Regions from separate parts of the Homo sapiens genome. Here region 1 is linked to region 2. Evidence: fine-mapped expression QTL. A gene starts in region 2. The other region holds a variant in brackets. All regions are shown on one strand. Distances are between the middles of the regions.

Region 1 (2,909 bases), 100 kb before region 2:
TCCCTAGAATCTCTTGGGTGCCAGACACTGTGCCTAGTTACTGAAGAAACATATCTCCTATCTGAGGCACCAGGCATATAAGTAAAGAAGAAACCATCTTGGACAGTCAAGCACACACCAGATAGAGCGGAAGAACCACCCAGCTAAGCCCAATCCAAAATGCTGAATCATGAGAAAAAAAATAATAAACTGTTGTTTTAGGCAACTAAGATTTGGGGGTAGTTTTTTACACAACAATAGCTAATTGAAACATTCCCAGACACAACCGCCATCATGAGACTTTAGGTCTTGTCTTTTTGTTTCAACAGGCTCTTCCCAGCTTCTTGGCCAGCTCTCCCAATCCCCTCCTTGTCAGTTGCTTGTAGTTCTGTAACTGGCAGCAGTGCTGGGATCACCTGCCCAACCAGTTCTTTGTGTGGCCAGGTGTAATTAATTAACTAGCCATTTCTGGGCCCCAGACTGGAGATGCCATTGGTCTTCAATCTCCTCCTTTGATGAGGAGCCCTTGAGCTGGACCCATTAAGGGATAGGCAACGATGACTAGGGCAATTCCAGACACAGAACCCCACCCCTGCTGTCAGTTACAGATGACCTGATGACACAGTCCCTGGCAAATGACCCTGGTCAGACCTTGGAGAGCAGAGAAACCTCAAGAGAGACTTCCAGCAAATGGGGAGTCTCATGAGAAACAACAGAAGTGATCATATTTAATATCACAGGCTGGAGACACAGATCATGGCAGTTACAGGAAACCATACGTTTTCTGTGGATAAGGTCTCCTGGCCTATTACCTTATTCAAGAAACAATTCAATTATTCAGTCCAGCAAACACTTGTTAATTCTTGATGACCACAACCAGAAAGGGAAGCCAGAGAAGCAAAAAAGTGATTATGATGCCTTTTGATAGTGTAGAAACAGAAGTACATACGGAGCCCAGAGACTGCCCTGAGGAGGAAGGGAATGATAATTTCTGGGGGTATTCAGGAAGGCCCCCAGGAGGAGGTGACCATTGAGATGGATTTTGAAGGGCAAATAGGAGTTCACTAGCCATAAAGGGTAGGGGGTCATCTTTCATGGTTGGTAGCCATGATTTGTGGGTGGGTCTACCTGGTTTAAAAACAGAGGAGCAAAGCCAACTTTCTACATGCAGTTCCCAACATGCACACATATTGATCTGATGGTGGGGTGAGGCCAGCTTCTGGACCCATGACCAACTTTGGAGGTCATGACACCCACTGAGGTCTTGGCAGGAAGCAGCCTTAGAAGGCACAAGTGCTGGTGGAATCGACCAGTTACAAAAGTTATCAACACTATGTGAGTTTTTGTACATGGTGTAGCAAGACAGAAGGAACCAAGGAAGAACAAATGGAAAACAACACATGCTAAGCTGTTCATCTGCAACTGTTAAGACTCCAAGTGGTGGCAGTGCCAGCTCAGAGCCCTCCACCTGCTGGAGATGTTTCTA[A/C]ATTGTCTTCACACATGGGCATTCATCCCGCAGTGGGGCTCTCTCTGCCTGAGCCCTGAGGTAAGGTTACAAGTCCTGAAACCCCATTTGTGGAGACGACCCCTCTAGGGAGCTGGAGCCTGGGGCAACCTCGCTCCTTCCTCCACAGTGAAATAGACTGAACCTCCAGCACACTGACCAGCACAGGTCTTGAATGGTGACTCCTGGTCTAGGGCTGGTCCCTTCTTAGAAAACCCGCCTTTCGATGATGGAGGGCTCTGCCTGGGTATCCATTGGAGGGGGCAGCCCTGAGGAAGGAATTACCCCTCTGAAAAGAGCTAATGTCATTCTTGTCACTTTAAATTAACTCTAGCCAAGAGGGACTGACAGAAACATGGATCTGGGTGAACTATATTTGACTGATATTCTGTCAAATATTGCATGGGGTTGTGATCCGCAACTTTTCCCATCTGCTGCTCCAGTCTGAGTCGCTGAATGCACAATGGCATCATTACCATATTTTGTTCAGATTTCCCTCCATCGGATCAGAGCCTGTGAATGTGAAATGTGCCCACAGAAAAAGGCAGCCCTGGCGAGGTGGGTGCAAGGGCGAGGGTGTCCCTTAGTTCTTCCTAAGGGGAGAGCTGGGAAGGGGTAGGGCTCCCCCGGAAGGCGTCCCGGCCCTCACCCAGGAAGGTGCACATCCTGGAAACAAAAGAGGAAGGTGGTGGATCAGGAGTAAGGAGTGGGATTAAGATCACACAAACCTGCAGCCTTTAGAAACTAGCTTAATCCATTTTATAAAGAGTTGGGAGGGTTTTTCTCTCCGTGAATATAATACCTTGCACATCTGATCAGCGTTTTTCCCAGAACATTTCAAAGCTCTCTGCAAATACAGCAAAGTCTCCTTAGATTAGAGCACGGCCTATTATTACCTGGCTTTGGAGACACCCCAGGTCAGCGGGTCACCTGGGGCCTTCTGAAATAAGACAATTCCCTACAACAAAAAGCCTGGTGTGATGTGGTTTGTCTAACTAGTGGTTTTCGAACTATGTGAGTCATGGCACCTTTAAAGGAAAAAAAAAAAAAGAAACAGCCTGAAGCTCAATTTCTAATTCAGAACAAAGTGAAATTAGGTTAAAGTAAAGGGTAAAGAAGAGGGTGAGGGGGAGCAAAGAGAGGTCCACCTGACACCCCATTCACTAAACCCCCAAGACTCCCAAGACCACAATTTGAAGACTACTGTGGAGGTCACTCCTTCCCCAACCAGAAGCAGATTTTCTGTGAAGTTAATGAAACTTAAGTTTCTGCAGAGCACCTTCTGTTCCTAGGTACCTCTTCCAAGACTTGGAACTTAATTTTATTTCTCTTATTTTGTGTTGTTTTTAAAATGAGGGCCCCCCAAATCATATAAGTGTCACAAAAGACCAGCTACATAATTTGGGCAGCCAAGTGCAAAATAAAA
Region 2 (2,909 bases):
ATGCAATCCTGTCTGATTAAATGTACACATTTGTTTTACTTCTTTTCAGGCTCCTTCTCACTCTACTTCTGATATTCTGATTAATATCAAAGTTGGGAGTTACAGTGATTCTCCTCTGCCTCCCCCCCAACCCATTTTTATTTTGCCTGCATCTTATTCTTTAGTGTGCAAATGTGGTTGTGATTTTTTTCCAGTGCAGGGGAATTCGTTGGCCTTGTCAATCTCGGTATCATTATTTTTAGTAGTCTTTCTGAGACTTTAGCCTATAAAACAGTTTTGCTGAAACCCCAAACTCTCTAAATATTACATGGCAAATTTGCTTTCTTTTGGAAACCTCGGTGCTGATGGGCCAGCTGAAGTGCAGGTGAGCTTTTTCAGGGAAGGGTGGGACAACAGTACATCCTGGACTCTAGACTAATACTACTCCTAAGAGGCAATTTGCTAAATCCTACTGATTTATTTTTTTCTTTTTTCTCTTTTTCATGTTGTAGTGTCCAGTCTACTTCTTACTGGGTATTTGCAAAAATGAATTTTCTTGCTCTATCACCCAGGAACATTGTGTTTTGGGAGCTGGGTCTTTCCTCTTTAACATAATTCCATTCCCCATTTTGTAGCAAATCAGTCTGCTCCTCCTCTAATACCTAAAAGTCAACAAATACCTGCCTCAAGCCCCAGGTTTCCCATCTTCTCCCGAAGGTCTTCTAGCATCGGTTTGGTTAGCAATTTCCTGCCAGAGCCACCTACATCTTGATTATTTTGGTCAGTCTTTCGGGGATTTCATTTCAGACCCCCTTCGAGAAACACTGTAGCCCAACTGATCCCAGGGGTTGGTGAACTTTCAGTTTTATTTTCCCTGACGGTGTTAACGCCCAAACTTTTCACCTCCTAAGTCAAAAAGGACTTTGACTCTAGCTCATTTCCTACTACCTCCAACGTCAGTTAAAAAAAAAAAAAAAAAAGCAAAACACCACTCTACATTTAAAAGAATCATATATTTTTCCTTAAGGATACTTTTAATGTTTCTGACATTTAGCATTTGTTTTTTGCATAAAAAGTCGTTTTGGCATATCCATCCTAGTGGGACTTAACATTTCATGAAATGATTCACTACTAATAAACAAAAAAGGGAGGAGGGAGGCCTCATGGGTTAATAGTTTCTTTCATTGTAGATGACCAGGAACTTTGACCAGCCCCTTCACTTCCCCAAGCTCTCTGAAAGTGGAGGGTTGATCTTTCCTTTTGACCACTTTTGTCGCATCCCGTCTAAGGGTGGCTGATTTCACTGCTGAATTAACCACCAAGCACCCCCCCACCCCCTCCCCCAGCCACCACTTTCTCAAATACTACCCTTCCTTTTCCCCCTCCCTTAAGACTTATTTCTAATATTTCTAAAGTGCACTGTTTTGGGCCTCTCCCCATCCCCGCCCCCCAAGTGGGCTTTCCTTCCGCCTTCCTCGGCTCGGATTCCTGACTTGGTCGCCACCCCCTTCTCCTCCTCTCCCACCCCGCATTGTCTTTCTGAAACCGCCCCCTCCCGGAGCAAGTCCCTGCACCCTCGCCCAGAATCCCGGGCTCGCACACACTCCGCGCAGGCCGCTCCCCCTGCACACTCCTCCCTCCGTCTCCCCCCGGCTTCCCCGCCCCTCTCTTCCTCCTTCTTTCCCTCCTCCCTCTCCCGGCGCCCGAAAGGATCATTGTTAGCCGCCCCCGCCCCGCCCACCCCGGCTGTTTATTTATGCACACGTCACTGGGCCGGCCCCGCCCTCCGGCATCTCATTAAGGCAGTGTGTTCCTCTCGCCCTGTCAATAATCTCCGCTCCCAGACTACTCCGTTCCTCCGGATTTCGATCCCCCTTTTTCTATCTGTCAATCAGCGCCGCCTTTGAACTGAAAAGCTCTCAGTCTAACTTCAACTCACTCAAATCCGAGCGGCACGAGCACCTCCTGTATCTTCGGCTTCCCCCCCCCTTTGCTCTTTATATCTGACTTCTTGTTGTTGTTGGTGTTTTTTTTTTTTTTACCCCCCTTTTTTATTTATTATTTTTTTGCACATTGATCGGATCCTTGGGAACGAGAGAAAAAAGAAACCCAAACTCACGCGTGCAGAAGATCTCCCCCCCCTTCCCCTCCCCTCCTCCCTCTTTTCCCCTCCCCAGGAGAAAAAGACCCCCAAGCAGAAAAAAGTTCACCTTGGACTCGTCTTTTTCTTGCAATATTTTTTGGGGGGGCAAAACTTTTTGGGGGTGATTTTTTTTGGCTTTTCTTCCTCCTTCATTTTTCTTCCAAAATTGCTGCTGGTGGGTGAAAAAAAAATGCCGCAGCTGAACGGCGGTGGAGGGGATGACCTAGGCGCCAACGACGAACTGATTTCCTTCAAAGACGAGGGCGAACAGGAGGAGAAGAGCTCCGAAAACTCCTCGGCAGAGAGGGATTTAGCTGATGTCAAATCGTCTCTAGTCAATGAATCAGAAACGAATCAAAACAGCTCCTCCGATTCCGAGGTAGGAAAAGCCCCTCGGGCTGGTGGGGTTTTTTATCTGTTTCCTGGGCTTGGCAAATGTTGCTGAAAGGGGAGAAATCGGGGCTGGGGGCGGCGGCGGGGCCCGGCGGGCGGCGTGTGCGTACGGTGCCACCATTGCAAAAACTTGTAACCCTGTTTTTTTCTACCCCCCCCTCGACCTCGCCGATTCTTTTTCTCCCCCTTCTCCCCCTTCTGCGTGGCGTTTGCCCCTCGCCCTCCCCACCTCCACCCCTCTGGGAAGGCGGAAAGACGGCCTCCGCCTCGCTCCGAAAGTTTCCGAGACAAATCCCGGGAAAGTTTGGAAGAAGGTGAGTACGCCCCGCGCGCCCCGCAGCCGCCCGGAGCCGCCCCCCGGGCCGGCCGCCCCGCGCGCCCCGGCCCCGCGCCC

Alleles and levels. Positions count from the first base shown, and alleles are read on the strand shown. Sizes are in standard deviations (SD) of each study's normalised expression.
For the expression in esophagus mucosa of the gene that starts at base 1,803 in region 2, A is the low allele of the variant in region 1 and C is the other (small effect, 0.16 SD a copy in GTEx).

The links. PIP is the estimated chance that this variant, and not a neighbour inherited with it, causes the effect.
Region 1: its variant is the best candidate, but not a certain one, in a credible set for the expression of TCF7L2 in esophagus mucosa (GTEx, PIP 0.52).

The regions. Positions count from the first base shown.
Region 1 is chr10:112,847,839-112,850,747 of GRCh38, forward strand. It overlaps a transcript of VTI1A not described here. Among named protein-coding and RNA genes, the nearest start is that of LINC02935, 42 kb to the right of the region's middle. The variant A/C (reference allele first, on the strand shown) is at 1,466.
Region 2 is chr10:112,948,445-112,951,353 of GRCh38, forward strand. TCF7L2 (transcription factor 7 like 2) reads left to right here and starts at 1,803. Exons shown (of 15, transcript NM_001367943.1): 1 at 1,803-2,501; 2 at 2,763-2,829. The coding sequence starts at 2,313. LOC124902502 (a long non-coding RNA gene) reads right to left here. Exons shown (of 2, transcript XR_007062291.1): 2 at 2,185-2,563.